2 separate regions of the Homo sapiens genome follow, and region 1 is linked to region 2. The links come from fine-mapping of genetic effects on gene expression. A gene starts in region 2. The other region holds a variant in brackets. All regions are shown on one strand. Distances are from middle to middle. Region 1 has its middle 80 kb from the start of CCR1. Region 2 holds the start of CCR1 (C-C motif chemokine receptor 1).

Region 1 (9,392 bases), 80 kb after region 2:
GAAAAATGGTGCCCAGTGCCTCCCTCCTGAAGCCTCCTTTTCAAATAACAGAAGAACACTGAGGGCTTGAAAAGCTTTTGTCCTTCTTCCAAACATAAGCTAGGAGAGAATGGAAGGGGCTATTCTGGTCACCACTACTCTGTTCTAGAGACATCACATTGTCAGTGTTGAAGCCTTGACTGGTGCAGCCCCAGGGACAATTGCTTGCTGATGAGGCAAGGCCCTCGCTGCTCTGGCTCGCTTCAGACTACTGTCGAGGTGCCACCCACCAGCCTCCACCTGGAGGTCCTTCAGCTCACACATGCTCCAAGCCTGGAGCTCCATCGTTCCCAGGGCGTGGCCCCATGCCATAGTCGCTGGGCCAGGAGGCTGCTGGTCTTGGCTGTGCTATTCCATAATCTCCCTGCATACACACAGCAAAGCCCAGGCTCTTGCATTTAGCTCAGACTGCCTTTGCCCTGGTGAATTTACCTTTGCCCTTGGCCTACTAGTCCTTTCCTCTCACCGTAAGCCACCCTGCCAGATTTGCTCGACTCAATATCTGCAGTCCCTCCCCTAACAAGGCTTCTGGCTCCTGATGTGAAAGGGTTTCCCTTCTACTAAAGTTCTGTGTGCTGAGGGCTCCCAGGACAAGCAGCTTTCATCAGGCCACACACTGCCCTTGTGTCCTGCACCCTCCCTGAGAGCAATGAGATCCTCCTTGCTGCCATACGCTATACGCTTGCAGAACAAAAAGGGGGAAACACAAGGAAAATTGTTCCAGGGGATCGTCCTTCTGGAAGCCTCCAATTAATTAGGCCAAAAATTAATATATAAAGTAAACACCATTAAAATGATAGTGCAAATAAAACCACATGCTAGTCAGTAATTATCAATATTGGCAGAATAGATTTAAGTTGATCTTCCACAGAGAATGATTTTTAAAGAAAACAAAAAACCCAGTATTGGTTCAGTTGCTCTATTCACAAAGTTGGCTATATTCTCACCTTGAGTTTATGTTCCAGCCCAAGCAGAATCCAACCCTAAGCCTTTTCTTTGTAAGTTTCAAATTTGATATAACTTCAAATTTTATGCAGATGTTTCAAGAATAGTTCAAAGAACTCTGTCCAAAGATCATCTTATCCAGATGCACCAATGTTAATATTTTGCCCCCATTTGTGTTATTCTCCTCCCCTCACTTCTCTTCATATCTAATTTATATATTATTTTCCTGAACTGCTTGAGAGTAAGTTACAGACACCATGCCCTTAAAAACTTCCCAAAAATGCCCCATGTGTATTTTCTAAAAGTAAGGACATTCTCTTACATAGCCACAGAACAAGGATCAAAATCAGGAAATTTAACATTCATCTCATGCTGTTGTCTGGTCCATCTTCCATGTCTACATTTCGCCAATTGCCCTTAAATAGTCCCTGGTGAGCTGTCTTCCCATAACCCAGATCCAATCTGGGATCAAGCTTTGCATCAGTCACCTTTCATCTAGAAGGGCCTCAGGCTTTCTGAGTTTGGCTCACTCTTAGGCAGGCACCACGGGGCTCGGAGTCCTTCGCTTTTCTGCAGCCGCACCTGCTGCCTGCCCCAGTTAGAGCCTATCCACCTTCTTGGTCCCCTAAACCTCCCTGGATCATGCAGTTCTCCTTCATGCTGAACATGGAGTGAGTGTTCTCTGTTGTTTTCTTGTGACTTCTTTCCAGTCAGGAAAATGTGATTCTGGTAACTCCATGCTTGTTCCCTTTTCACACTAACCACAGTTCCCTTTTTACAGTAATCACATTTTGGTGTAAAAACAATGTCATGATAAAGGAAACTTCCTGAAAAGGAATGAGAACATAATCCTCCTCTAAGAACCTGTTCATTTTTACTTGTGCCGGCCTAGTAATACATTTTATACTGCAGTCATTGTGCTCATTTTTTTCATCTGCCCTTTCACGTTTTCTAAAATGCAAATTGTTCCCTGTCACTCCCCTCCTATGACACTCAGGCCAAACTGCAGACACGACCTAGTGAGGGCCCTGCCTACCCTCATCCCCTGACATATGGTCCTGGTGCTCCCCACGCCAAGCCACGCAGAGGCTCCTGAATACACCAGACTCTTTCTCAGTTGTATCCTTCCACCCCACTCTTGCGTCTGCTCCATCAGGCCCAACTAGTGAAGTTCGCACAAAGTGCCTAAGCATCACCTCCCTCCTGTGCCTGACCTCACCACTCCAGCCAGGGCCACTCCCTCACTGCTTGGTCCAACAGCGGTTATCAGAGTATCATTCTGTTTTGCAGATGGGCTTATGTGCCCGCCTCTCCCAGTGACTGTGTGTTTCCTGTGGGCAGCACCTATATCTTTTATTTCAATGTCCCTAGCACCAGGCACAGTGCACAGAGGTACCAAAAAACTCTGCAAGTGAACATTGTTGCTGTAAGGCCAGCATCCTTCTTTCACCCTGTGTTCCCTTCTAAGCTGTGCATGCAAACACCCATCTCTTTTGAGCATCATGAGAGCTGCCTGGGCCAGCCTTCTCACTCATCATCCCCACCACTCCTCACCCCCTTGGTCATGCCCCGTGTTCTCCAGCTCCTCTCTGGATTCTGAGTCTGGTTTGAGTCCCACCTCTCCCATGGACTACTGGTGTAATCTTGGGAAAGATTTTACCTTTATGCCCTTGCATTTCTTGACCTCAAATCCTTTGCCTCCCCCACCTTTCAGCTACCCACACCACAAATCTTGTCACTTCCAGGATCTGCCCTATCAAGAAATCTTTAGCATCTCCTTCTCTAACCACAACTGCCTATAGTGCCTATTCTTGCACATCCTCCTTACCATCACCCCCACCTGTGTTTCCACCCCATCAAGCACTCCCTAGAAACTTCGACCCACCATTTCCCCTGGATATTATCATCCCCTTGCTGTCTTCACTTAATTCTTGATTAAGTCACATAGTCCTTACCAGTACACTCCATTGACCACACGTGAGGTGGGTATGGCCTCATTACCCCTGGACACTCCCTGAACATACTCCAGGTATGCTCTTCTGAGATGCCTGCCTGGAAGAACCCAACCTTGACCCTGTCTCGCAATCCCATTTCTCTAGTTTTGTGCCCAACCTGCTAGAGAAATTCATCCAGGTGTAGGGAAAACACAAATCCATGATGTCTAACGTCAGCTGGCCCTCGGTATCCGAGAGAGCTAGATCTATCATTAGAAGCCATGGTGTCAAGTACTGGCTCTGCCATTTTGGGCCATGAACAGAACTTCTACCTTGTACAAACCCGGCAGCACCCTCCCTTCCCCTCCAAAGCCAGCTCCCTTCCCCTCCAAAGCCAGCAGGTTTAAAAAAGTTCCAAAGTCTCATAATATATAATGCCCCAAATTTCCAGGTTTTTTAATGTGGTAATATATATATATATATATATATATATAATCAAATGTACCATTTTAAACCATTTTAAGGGTACAGTTCAGAGGCACTAAGTACTCTCATATCACACAACCATCACTACCTTCCATCTCCAGAACTTTTTCATCTTCCCAAACTGAAACTCTGTACCCATTAAGCACTAACTCCTCCCTCCCTCCAGCCCCTGGCAACCCCTATTCTGCTTTCTGCTTCTGTAAATTTGACTATTCTTGTTATCTTATGTAAGTGAAAACATACAGTATTTCTCTTTTT[G/A]TGACTGGCTTATTTCACTTAGTGTAATGTCTTCAAGGTTCATCCATGTTGAAGTAAGTGTCAGAATTTCCTTAAGGCTGAATAATATTCCATTGTACCTATATACCACATTTCGTTTATCCATTCAGCTGTCTATAGATATTTGGGTTGTTTTCACCTTTTGGCTATTGCAAATAATGCACTATAAACTTGGGAGTACAAATATCTGTTTGAGTCCTTCCTTTCAAATCTTTTGGGTGTATATCCGGAATTGGAATTGCTGGATCACATGAAAATTCTATTTTTAATTTTTCGAGGAACTGTCATACTGCTTTCCATAGCCTCTGCACCATTTTACAATCCCACCAACAGTGCGCAAGGGTTCCAGATTCTTCACATACTCTCTAACACTTATTTTCTGGTGTGTGTATGTGCGTGTGTGTGTGTGTGTGTGTGTGTGTATTTCTTTTTTGCTAAAAGCCATACTATTGGGTGTGAAGTGGTATTTTCTTGTGGTTTTGATTTTCATTTCCCTAATGATTAGGAATGTTGAACATCTCTTCATGGGCTTACTGGTCATTTGTATCTCTTCTTTGGAGAAATATCGATTTAAGTCCTTTGCCCAATTTTGAATCAGGTTATTTGGTTGTTTTTTGTTTGTTTGTTTTTGTTTTTGTTTTTGAGATGGAGTCTCACTCTGTTGTCTAGGCTGGAGTGCAGTGGTGTGATCTCCCCTCACTGCAAGCTCTGCCTCCTAGGTTCATGCCATTCTCTTGCCACAGCGTCCCAAGTAGCTGGGACTACAGGCACACGCCACCACCCCCAGCTAACTTTTTGTATTTTTTTTAGTAGAGACGGGGTTTCACCGTGTTATCCAGGATGGTCTCAATCTCCTGACCTCATGATCCTCCCGCCTCTGCCTCCCAAAGTGCTGGGATTACAGGTGTGAGCCACCGTGCCCGGCTGGTTGTTTTCTTCAAATAGTTTTATAGATCAGCTCTTACATTTAGGTTTTTGATCCACTGCGAGTTAATTTTTGTATATGGTGTAACACAGGGGCCCCACTTCATTATTCCTCTGCATGTGGATAATATCTAGTTTTCCCAAGACCATTTGTTGAAAAGACTATTCTTTCCCCCCACTGAACAGTATACTAGTTGCCTAGAGCTGTTCTAACAAAATACCACAGGCTGGTGACTCAAACAACAGAAATGTATTTCCTCACAGTTCTGCAGGCTGAAAATCAAGGATCAAGGTCCTGGTTTCCTCTGAGGCCTCTCTCCTTGGCTTGCAGATGGCTGATGTCTTGTTTCCTTTCCCCCTGGTCATTCCTCTGTACACACATGCTCCAGGTGTCTGTTCCTCTCTTTTATAAGGGCACCAGTCACATTAGATTAACACTCAGTCCTAACAGCCTCATTTTAACCTAACCAACTCTTAGACTTTCTCTCCAAATATAGTTACATTCTAAGATAACAGGGGTTGGAATTTCAACATATGAATTTTGAGGGAATATAATTTAGTCTATAACAAATGGCCTTGGCACTCTTGTCAAAAATTATGAGAGTTTAATCGTGGGCCCTCTATTCTATTGCATTTGTCCACATGTCTGTGTTTATGCTATTACCATTCTGTTTTGATTACTATATCTTTGTAGTAAGTTTTGCAATTAGGAAGCGTGAGACTTCCAACCTTGTTTTTATTTCTATTTGGGCTATTTGGGTTTCCTTGAGAGTCCATATGAATTTTAGGATGAACTTTTCTATTTCCACAAAATAGTCATTGGGATTTTGATAGAAATTGCATTGACTCTGTAGATTGTTTTGTAATACTAATAGTTAACAATATTAAGTCTTCCAATCTGTAAACACAGGATGTCTTTCAATTTATTTGTGACTTCTTTAATTTCTTTCAGCAATATTTGTGATCTGCAATATACAAGTCTTTTACCTCCTTGGTTAAGTTTATTTCTAAGTATTTCAGCCTTTTTGATGCTATTGTAGATGGAACTGTGTTCTTAATTTCCTTCTCAGGTTGTTCATTGTTAGTGCATAGAAATTCAACGAATTCTGGGGTATTGGTTTTGTATCCTGCAACTTTGCTGAATTTATGTATTAGTTCTAACAGGTGCTTTTGGTGGAATCTTTAGGATTTTCTGCATATATGATCATGTCATCTGTGAACAGAGATAATTTTACATCTTCCTTTCTGATTTGGTTGCCTTTTATTTCTTTTTCATTCCAGTTGCTCTGGCTAAGACTTCCAATGTTATATTGAATAGAAGTGGTGAGAGCAGGCACCCCTGTCTCATTCCTGATCTTAGAGAAAAAGATTTCATTCTTTCACCATTGAGTATTATATAAGCTGTGGGTTTTCTTTCACATATGACCTTTATTATACTAAGGTATTTTCCTTCTATTCCTATTTTGTTGAGTGTCTTTTATTATGAAAGGGTGTTGAATTTTGTCAGATGTTGAATAATTGAGAGGATCATTCATTTTTTTTTCCTCATTCTATTAATGTCATGTATTACCTTGATTTATTTTTGTGTGTTGAGCCACCCTTACATTCAAGGATAAATCCTTCTTGGTCATGGTGTATAACCCTTTTAATTTGCTGCTGAATTTTGTTGTGTTTTGTTGAGTTTTGCATCAATAGTCATAAAGGATATCAGTCTGTAGTTTTCTTTTCATATGTTTATCTGGCTTCACAAATATGAGTTAAGAACTGTTCCTTCCTCTTCAACTTTTTGGAAGAGTTTGAGAAGGATGGCTATTAATTCTTTAAATGTCATTAGAACTCACCAGTTAAGCCAACTGTCTGGGGCTTGTCTTCGTTAGGAGGTTTTCGATTATTGAATTAATCTCCTTACTCATTATAGGTTTATTCAGATCTTCTATTTCTCCACAATTCAGTTTGATGGAAACTGTTCCTAGGAATTTGTCCATGTCATCTAGGTTATACAATTTGTTGGCATATAATTGTTCATAGTACTTTCTTATGATCTCTTTTATTTCTGTTAAAATCAGTAGTAATGTCTCCATTTTCATTTCTGATATTAGTTATTTGAGAGTCTTCTTTCTTTTTTATCTTTGCCAATCTAGCAAAGATTGTCGTTGATCTTTCTGAAAAACCAAATCTTGGTTTTATTAATTTTCTCTATTTTTTTCCATTCTCTTTTTTATTTATCTCTGCTCTAACATTTATGATTTCCTCCTTTCTTCTAGCTTTGTGCTTAGTTTGATCTTCTTTATCTAGTTCTTTAAGGTATAAAGTTAGGTTATTAATTTGAGATCTCTCATTTCTTCCAATGCAAGCATTTATAGCTATCAAAATTTCTAAGATTTAATTGAAAATCATTCGTCTTACTAAGGACCAGGAAGATCTCAAACTAAATGAAAAAAGGGGGAATGGAAATCAATAGATGCCACACCAAGAGATATTAGAATTATCTGACAATGATTTTAAGCAATTATCATAAAAATGCTTCAATGAGCAATTACAAGCACCCTGGAAAAGAAGAAAAAAATGGAAAGCTGCAGCAAAGAAACAAAAGGCTCAGGAAAAGCTGGGTGCAGGGGCTCACGCCTATAATCCCAGCACTTTGGGAGGCTGAGGAAGCACTTTCTCAAGGCTAGGAAGCCAAGCCAAGAACTGTCCACCTACAGTTCCTAGAGATTTGGATGAATTCCTCTCTTCTAGAGGTTCCCAAAATTTCCTGGGCCAGGAAGTGACCTTTGTTTCTCATCTGTGAGACTGGAAACCTATAAATCAGGTACCAGACCAGTTTGCCCAATAGGACTTTGTAAACATTGGCTCCATAAAAATCAGTCTTAGTTCTTAAAACTGTCTGATCATTTCTAATTCTGTGACGCATTCCCAAATATGACAATTGTTGCAGCTCAGGAAACAATTCCCCAAAGTATGACACTTTGGTATGCTGATTGATAAACAGCAGGAAACAGTGGATGCAAGCAGAGGTTCTCTGAGGTCCCCATATTTGCCTAAAAACAGATCTAGGAAAGATTTTCTCTCTGGAAAAGAAATCAAAGGTCAACACATCACCTAGAGAGGTTTTGCCTCAGGCTACCCGAGAGCTGCTACCTGAGAGGTTATATCTGCACAACAAGACAACTTTTGTTCACCATGGATTTTATCCCCAAACCAACCCCACTCACTGCCCCCCGCCACCTTCCTGTAATCTGTCACCATCTCCTCCTAGAAGCTTGCACAATTCTGACTGAAAAATTAAAGTTGAGCAAATTTTCCGCTCAATGGGTGCCAAAACCATTGCAGCCAGATTAGCTGCAGACAAGAGCAAAGCTTTAAACAAGGGGGATCAAGATCCTGAAGCATTTCTTTGAAGAACTGTGTAAGAGGAGATGGAACATGGCTTTACCACTACATTACTGAAGACAAAGTACAGTCAAAGCAATGGCTACCAAGAGATGGAAGTGGTCCAGTCACAGCAAAAGTGGAGAGCAAAGGTCATGGCAACAGCTTTTTGGGATGCTCAAGGCATTTTTCTTGCTGACGTTCTAGAGGGCCAAAGAGTGATAACATCTGCTTATTATGAAAGTGTTTTTGAGAAAGTCAGCCAAAGTATTAGCAGTTGAAGTTATCCAAGTCACTTGTGGCGAATTCATAGGGGTTTGCAGCAACCTCAGTTCTTGCCTTCTCAAAAGAAAGAATTTGACTAAGGGGCATAAGGCAGAAAAAAGAGACTGCGGCAAGTTTTAGAGCAGGAGTGAACGTTTATTAAAAAGCTGTAGAGCAGAAATGAAAGGAAAGTAAAGTACACTTGGAAGAGGGCCAAGTGGCCATTTTGGAGGTTAAATGTGGGCTTTGATCTTTTGACTTGGGATTTTATATGCTGGCATACCTCTGGGGTCTTGCATCCCTTTTCCCATGATTCTTCCCTGAGGGTGGCCCGCTGGCATGCAAGGTGGCCTAACACCCTGGAGGCGAGCATATGCAGTGTGTTTACTAGAATTGTATGCATGCTTACCTGAGGCATTCTTCCCTTTTCCAGTGGAATACCTACCAAAGGTCATACTCCACAATTATGCCTCTTAATGCTTGCCCAATTTTTGAGATGTTAATGGGAAGCGGCTGATCACCAGTTCCAGGTGTTTTAGCTATTGGGAAACTGCTTTTCCCTGGCAATTATGGTCACCTGACATTCCTGGTGTGGGGGAGCCTTCCCCTGCTCTGCTCATGCCTGGGTAGCTACCTACTCTAACAAAAGCTTTAGCAGAAAAATACTCAGAAAAGCTTCACCAGAGAGGCCTTCACCACAAGATTGCTCCTGCACATTCCCCCCATCAAATGTGGGCAATTTTGCAAGAGTTTCGATGGGAAATCACTGGGCATCCACCTTACGGTCCTGATTTGACTCCTTCTGACTTCTTTTTGTTTTTTAGTCTTAAGAAATCTTTAAAGGGCACCCATTTTTCTTTAGTTAGTAAATTTCTTATCTTTTAATTTCATTTTTCTATGAATTTTTTGAAGCCCCCTCATATAGCCAACTTATCTTTTACAGGTGCGTAAAAGCAATTCAATGGAGGAAGAATTGTCTTTTCAACATGGTACTGGAGGAACCCATAGGGAAAAAATTAACCTTAACCCAAGATCAAGCTACATACAGATCTAGAGAAAATTTGCAAACAATATGTATTAGTCAGGGTTCTCTAGAGGGACAGAACTAATAGGTTATATATATTATATATATATTTATATATATAATATTAG
Region 2 (8,000 bases):
TGCCTACATGCTTATTCCCAGGTGCTTGCTGGTGGAGAAGAATCTTCTGGGTATGAGGTTCAGTGACAAAAGCAATGGAAGACAACGTGTATTGTATTCACTCACCAGTGTAAAAAAAAGTGTGTGTGTGCGTGTGTTCTATGTTCAAAGTGACATGAGAATCTGATACTGTTGTTCCTTTTGGGAAGAGAAATGGGGAAAATAAGGCGCCAGGGGTAGGCAAACTTAGCTCTTCACCTTATATTTTGTGTACTTACAAATATAAACAAATTACATCTCAGAGAATTCCTGTAGACCAGTGGTTCTCGAAACTTATTAGAAATGCAAATCTAGGTCAGGCATGGTGGGATCACAGGTCACACCTGTAATCCCAGCACTTTGGGAGGCTGGGGCAAGAGGGTCACTAGAGCCCATGAGTTTGAGACCAACCTAGGCAACATGATAACACACCCATTTCTACAAAAAATATATATATATATATATACATATTTTTTCAAATTAGCCAGGTGTGGTGCCATGCACCTGTGGTTCCAGCTACTTAGGAGACTGAAGTGGGAGGATCACTTGAGCCCAGAAGGTTGAGGCTGCAGTGAGCCATGATCATGCTACTGCACCCCAGCCTGGGCGACAGAGCAAGACCTTGTCTAAAAAAAAAAAAAAAAAAAAGTAAATTCTCAGGCCCCATTCCAGACCTACTGAACTTAATCTCTGGAGATAAGTCCAGAAATCTGTTTTAACAAGCCCTCTGTAGATTCTGATGGATATTCAAATTCGAGAACCATTGCTTTAGGCCAGGGATTCTAGTTCTCAGATTTTTTAACATATTAAAATTCCAATGCCCAGGCTGCACCCTAGACCAAGTACATCAGAATATCTGGGGGTGGGCCTAGGAGTCAATTGTCCTTCAAGCTTCCATGTGACTCTAACATAGCGGAGGCAACACTGGTTTCACCTACCTTCTTCCAATTCTGGGATCCACCTCTTCCCAGCCTCAAATCTTGCTCAGGCTTTAGATGTGATAACCTGGAGATTGTTTTCTTGGAGTTCTTCCACAATGGCCTCTGGCTCCTCAGTTCCCCACCATCGCTGATTTGGAGAGAGTGTGTGGCCAGAAGACAAGGCCCAGCAGTTGAATATGAGGTTGAACCTGATGACGGCCAGGGTCCATGAGCTCTGCAGGTGTTAAAGACAGAGTCATCCACATCCACCACTGGCAGGGTCCCCTGCATCTCTTCCCTGAACATTGGTGCCAAGGCTGGGGTGGAAGGCTGTCTCAGGACAGGGTTTGGCTTAGTGCTGGGCTTCCACTGCAACCTCTCTGGGGCAAAGGAAGCTGCCCACATCTCCCCCTTCTCTCCAAGGAAGAGGAACATTGATGTGGATCAAGGACAATACGGCAACCTTGAGAGAACACTACAGCTTTTAAGGAGAGGAGTCAAAGGGCTTTTAAGAGAAATGAATGGAGCAAGGTCATCCCTCTTTGCTGGTTTCTCTCTTGTCTCTCTGTGCTGCCCCCATTGTACACATCTGCTGTGGTGAGAGGGGTGTGTGCACTAAGGGGTTTGCAAGGCCATAGGAGACCTGAGTGTGGGTGTGGGAGGGGAGACAGAGCAGGCAACTGAGCAGCCTCTTGTTTAGGCCTTGAGCTAAAGAGAGAAAGAAGGCTTCCTAGCTCATAGCTGGTCCAGCCTAACTCTTCTGAAGAAAGATCACATGGGACTCTGAGCCAAAAGCATTGAGAAAATCTAGATCCATGCCCCCCAAATTTAAGCATGCATCAGAATCATGCCAGTCTTTGTCAAAACCTGGATTGCTTGGCCGCATCCCCAGGATTTCTGAGTCAGTATATCTGGCATGTAACCCCAGAACTTGCATGGCTAGCAATGTCCCAGGGAATGTGAATGCTGCTGGTCCAGGGACCTCACTTTGAGAACCACTGCTCTAAAGGACTTCCTCACCCCTTCCCACCCTCGATGCACCCTTCCTTAGCCCAGGGTATTTCCCAGGCCACTACAAAAGCTGTTCCTCATTGTGGTAACTTGGTTAATTGTTTGTGATCCTTCCTAAGCTATAAGCTCTCAAAGAATGGATCCAGCCTCTTTCTTCACCACTATATCCCAAGCACCTAACACAATGTCCGGCACATTGTGAGTACTGAATAAATATTTGTTCAATGAACAAGCAGATTTGCCTGGTACATCCCCTCTGTGGAATGAAACCTAGAGCAGAGCTGGAAGCCTGGTCAAGGATGAGGTACTGACCATGTCCCTTACTTTAGACAGGATCAAGGAAAAGGCAGGCCTCACAAGCCTCTGTTCTCTTTGGAAACTGATCCACCAGCAAAGTACTGCAAATAGCCAGGCACATGCAGACCCCCATTTATTTCTTTGGGGTGAAGCTGAGTGATGATCAGATGTCAAGCTTAGGCCATCTTGTCTGAATTCTTCATTTTACAGATAAGAAAACTGAACCATGAAGAGACAAGTGATCTTTTCAAAGCACATTCACACTGATGATTTCTGAAACAGTGCTTTGTAGCAATGCCGTGAGGAAGGTTAGGGGTGTCCCCACTTTATAGAAGACACAAGGGCAGAGGCAGAGTAGGTGTTGGCAGTTGTGAGGAGAGTCACAGTACTCATCATTTGTCAGACATTTTTCACTGTGCCAGGCACTCTGACATTTTTCATGTACAAGTTGACTTCGTGCTTCTCCTCTGAGGTAAGCATTCAATACTCCCATTTAGCAGAGTAGGAACCAAGACTTAGAAAGGTGAGTGATCTGCCCATGTCACAGGTGGAGAGCTGGGATTTGAACTTGGCCCATGTTTGACCATCACGTAAAACAGGAATGGGGCATCAGAAAGGGAAGGTCAAAATGTAACCAACAGACCTATATTCCCTTCATGCTGGAGGTTCCTGGGGCAAAGCCACTCTCTGAGGTTTGGTGGGGAGGGACTTGGGGAGCAGAGAGCAGAGGGACAATGAGCTCCCAGAAGCCGAGGGGCATAGGGTGCCAAAGAGAAGCTGCTGCCTCTGTGAGCACCCATGTCAGTTAGTTTTGAGGAACAGGACTCAGGGTTCCAGTTTAAATCCTTCCATTCACAATCTTTAAGAAGAAGAAAAAAAAGAAGTCTGCCGCTGACCACAAGAGCTCTATGCCCTGCCCCCATCCCACATACACACATCCCACACTTCAATTGCTCCAAACATTCTGGGAACATCTCACTGCCACCCACCTCACCCAACTCAGCTTCACCTGCCCCCAATTCCCTTAAGGCTGAGCTCCCAGGGCCAAGACTCAAGAGGCTCAGAGTGAGCAGAGAAAATCCTCGCAGTTAACTTGGCTTCCAGGAAGTGGCCACTGGTGGGCGTTGTGGCCATTCATGAGCACCAAACCACACAAAAAGAAGAACTTTGTCCCTTTCTTGTCATTTTGAAAGACTGTGAAACTGGAGCCAATTCTCCATCATCACACAGGAAGCTGAGTACTTCCTACTTGGTCAGGATCTTGAAACTTGAATTCATAAAAACCCAGAAAGCCCCAGAAACAAAGACTTCACGGACAAAGTCCCTTGGAACCAGAGTAAGTGTCACTTGTCTTTTCTGTCTTATCTGTTACTGTGGAGGGCAGTGTTGTTCAAAGACATGCATGCAGCTAGGGGCTCCTCAAAGGTAGGGGGAATTCTTTGAGTAGGCTGGGCAAATGTCTAAGTAGCCCATGGATGCATCTCCAAGGCAATTAATACTGTAGCAATACTGAGAATGGTGGATTTATAAAGCTGGGTGCTCAGATGAAATATAGGCTTTTTTGCTAAAAAGGAAGCTTACTTGAAGGATTGGCTTTTGGTTACTGATTAAGAAAGTCAGTCAGTACTAAGGGACAAAAGGTGTTTTCTGTGGAAACCTATTCAATAAGAAATTACTTGGCGGGGCGCAGTGGCTCACGGCTGTAATCCCAGCACTTTGGGAGACCGAGGCAGGTGGATCATGAGGTCAAGAGATGGAGACAATCCTGGCCATATGGTGAAACCCTGTCTCTACTAAAAATAAAAATTAGCCGGGCATGGTGGCGCATGCCTGTAGTCCCAGCTACTCAAGAGGCTGAGGCAGGAGAATCACTCGAATCCGGGAGGTGGAGGTTGCAGTGAGCTGAGATTGCACCACTACACTCCAGCCTGGCGACAGAGCAAGAGTCTGTCTGAAAAAAAAAAAAAAATTGCTTGCCAAATTCCCCCATGTAAAGGAAAACCAAACATGGTGTATGAAGAAATTATAGCAAGAGGGAAATATTAGCTAGAAAAATCTTGGCAGATGCAAGGATGATTTGATACTGAACCTATCTCTTAAGAAGACTAGAACCAAGGATCCTCAAAATTGGCACTGCTATCTTTGGAAGAGGTAGGCTTTCACTCACCCAAAGGCAAGGAGCTGGCCAGGTGATCTTGGGGGGCATCTGTTCTGCTCTACTAACAAAGACACAGGTCAGGATTTTGTTCTGAAGATAGAGGGGCATGGTGGCTCCGTATAGGTATCTACTTCATAGGTGGTCTTGGTGGGTCCCAGATTTCAAAGAAGAGATGGAAACTCCCAAAAGTTTGCACAACCTGGCACCAGGCTATGTGCCACTCACTGATCCTTTAGTTCCCGCACCGAGCAGTGGGACAGTGCTGGACTGTTCAGAATGTGGGGCCTGGGCAGTGATGTGCTGGTAAATGTTCAACAACTGACTCTTCTGAAGAAAAGATCCCTGCTTTATAACATTTGTTGATTTTCATGGTATAAATGCCCCCACTGTGGTCAGTTTCAAGCTACCAACATGCTGAATGTGGAGTGGGGAAGAGATGCACGCAATTGGCATTTATAAACCAGTATAAGCCAGCCAGCGCACCATAGGCCTGGGTGTCTTTCACCATCACAGACTGCTCTATCTCTGCTCAGAGACTTCACCAACTCCCAGGCTGGAGGACACTAGCAGTGGAGGGTCCAGGATCCAGGGCTATAGCTGACCACTGTGCAGTGGCCTTGAGGCAGACTTCTGCAGTAGACTACAGCAGGGCTGGCAGATTAGATGACAACATGGTCCTTTGGTTTCTCTTCTCGGGCCCCACCCCAGATCACCTCCCTTTAGGAACAGCATGCCTTGGAGTGGTTGCCTGGGGCTTAACAAGTTGGGGAAATAACAAATGGGTTGGAGGTAGGGGGTGTATGGAGGTGACTCGGTTTAAAATGCCACCTGACAATGTTGACTCAACTTGCCTTTGCCTTTGCCAAACCTTCCCAGAAACTGGACTCATGGGATCAGGCTTGCACTAGCTGCTCTTTGTGCTTTCCAAGCTATTTGCATACTTCCACTGTTAACCTGCCAGCCCACCGAAAAGTGCTGACTATCAAACCGAACTGTCTGCCCTCATCAGCAATGGCTGTGGCTGCAGAAATTAGAAACTGCCAACACAGCTTTGTTAGTGACCGTTAGCCTGACTCTCTCCAGAAAGAGGGCTGATTGGATCTCTCTGGAGATGGAGGAGTGGGCCAGGGGATGGGTTTGATAAAAAATTAAAGCTCCTCACTTCTCACCCTAATAGAGTATCTCCCTTTCCAGCCAGGGTGCCCTATACCCTCCATGTGCCTTAATTTCCTTTACAATGGCTATTGAAAAAAATGTGAATTGTGTAAGCAGGAAACATTCCTTAAGGAGAGTAGAAGGAAGAACACCAGAGACCCAGGTTTAAGATAGAAATTATAAAGTAGGTGCCACCTACTTTACTGATTGGCATTTGGGTCAAATCAATTTAGATTGGCGGCAATAGATTGACAATTTCAAATGTCATTCACATGGAAGGGACCATCATTGTCCACCGTTATCAAGAAAAATCACTTTCTAGATTAACTACAAAGAAATTTGGCAGGGGGGTGGGAGACAGGGTATACCAGCCAGCCAGGGACATCCTGGACATTGGTGCCTGGGATGTGCTGGTGGTGTCAGGCCTCAGGGAAGGGCTCCTGCAGTGAAGGAGTTCTCTCAGGGAAGGTCCCCAAGAAAAGTGCCCTGGCCTGGCTCTTGCCAGGCCCTCAATAAGGGGCCTGGCTGTTGCCAGGTGGTGGTGGTGGGAGGGTGATGGTAGCACTTTTCTCATACATTACCTCACAGTAGCCTTGCAAGATAAGAGTTGCTTTCCCACATTACAGATGAGGAATGAAGCTCAGAGAGGTAAAATAATTTATCCAAAGTCACAAAGCTCGTAGGTTACACCAAAGCCAATGCTCCATTTGGGGAGGCATCTTTAATAAGCAACTGGAAAGGATTCAAGTGCCAAAAAAGCAGGGACTGGGAGAAGTCCTACAAAGGCAACCTACAGAGTGATTCTTTTTTGTTTCATTTTTGTTTGCTTTAAGGCATCCGTGGGTAAAAATATCTAAGAGCTTATCTCAGCAGAATTCAGCTAGTCACTGTGTAACATCACCTCATAGCTCCAGACCATTCTGAACTCTTCCTCCCCTGATGCCCAGTTTTCTCTTTTTCTGACCAGGTTACCTCCCCCTTCTCTGCCTGCACTTTCCTCTCCTTCAGGAGGTCTGCAAAGTGACCTTAGATCTACCTGTGCCACCTAAGGACTGTGCAATGTGGGTCAGGCTCAGCCCACTCTGGTGCCCTCAGTGTCCTCATCTCCAAAATAATGGGGTTGACCTACTAGGATTTCACTATGGCAACACCACTGGTGTTTGGGGTAGAATGATCTCTGCACTGTAGGACATCCTTGGCCCTGCCTACCAAATGACGGTAGCATCCCCCAGTTTTGGTGACAACAACAACAAATGCCCACACATTTCCAAGTGCCCCAAGGGTACTAGGTCACTCTCGGCTGAGAATCTTCTTAGACCAAAAGCCATGAATATCTGTTTGTATCTTTCTCTGAGCCAGGACCATTTTCCTTCTCAGAGTCCTCCTGTGGGCTCCACAGTGCAAAGCTACTGCTCGGGGACAGCAGCAGGAAAGCGTAGTGGTGTCAGGGCCGGGCATGAGAATGATGCACAGCTGGGTTGGAGCTCCAGGTCTGTTCTCACAAGAGGTGTGTCCTTGAACATGTTTCCTAACCACTCTGAACCTCTGTTTCATCACCTCTTAAATAAGAACAACAATGGGACCCCTCCAGGGCTCTTTAACCCTAAGTCCAGTGCCTAGGCCATGGGGGTGCTTAGGAAGTGTTGGTTATGAATAGTATGGTAAGGTCTCCCTCTGGCTTTCCACCCATTGAACTTATCCCTTACAAAACTCTTTGCTGAAATGATTGAATTAATGATTTGTGCACTCATTTACTTATTGCTTCCACTCCCTGTTAGACTAAGATTCCTAGAAGGCAGAGAGGATCTGGGTCTCTCTAACACTCCATTTTGTCCCCAGGGCATGGTACACAGAAGGCACTCAATAAACATTTATGGAGTGGCTGAAAAAATGTTACCTCTCCCTTGTCTTTACTGTCCAGTGCCCACTGCCTTTAGTAGCAGAGTAAAGACAAATCTTTTTTTTTTTTTTAACCTGTAGGAGAAGCCGGGATGGAAACTCCAAACACCACAGAGGACTATGACACGACCACAGAGTTTGACTATGGGGATGCAACTCCGTGCCAGAAGGTGAACGAGAGGGCCTTTGGGGCCCAACTGCTGCCCCCTCTGTACTCCTTGGTATTTGTCATTGGCCTGGTTGGAAACATCCTGGTGGTCCTGGTCCTTGTGCAATACAAGAGGCTAAAAAACATGACCAGCATCTACCTCCTGAACCTGGCCATTTCTGACCTGCTCTTCCTGTTCACGCTTCCCTTCTGGATCGACTACAAGTTGAAGGATGACTGGGTTTTTGGTGATGCCATGTGTAAGATCCTCTCTGGGTTTTATTACACAGGCTTGTACAGCGAGATCTTTTTCATCATCCTGCTGACGATTGACAGGTACCTGGCCATCGTCCACGCCGTGTTTGCCTTGCGGGCACGGACCGTCACTTTTGGT

Evidence for each region. PIP is the estimated chance that this variant, and not a neighbour inherited with it, causes the effect.
Region 1: its variant is fine-mapped to the expression of CCR1 in whole blood (INTERVAL, PIP above 0.99).

The regions. Positions count from the first base shown.
Region 1 is chr3:46,123,175-46,132,566 of GRCh38, reverse strand. No RefSeq gene overlaps it. Among named protein-coding and RNA genes, the nearest start is that of CCR1, 80 kb to the left of the region's middle. The variant G/A (reference allele first, on the strand shown) is at 3,663.
Region 2 is chr3:46,203,864-46,211,863 of GRCh38, reverse strand. It overlaps CCR1 (C-C motif chemokine receptor 1), which reads left to right and starts at 3,551. Exons shown (of 2, transcript NM_001295.3): 1 at 3,551-3,582; 2 at 7,540-8,000. The coding sequence starts at 7,551. It also overlaps a transcript of CCR3 not described here.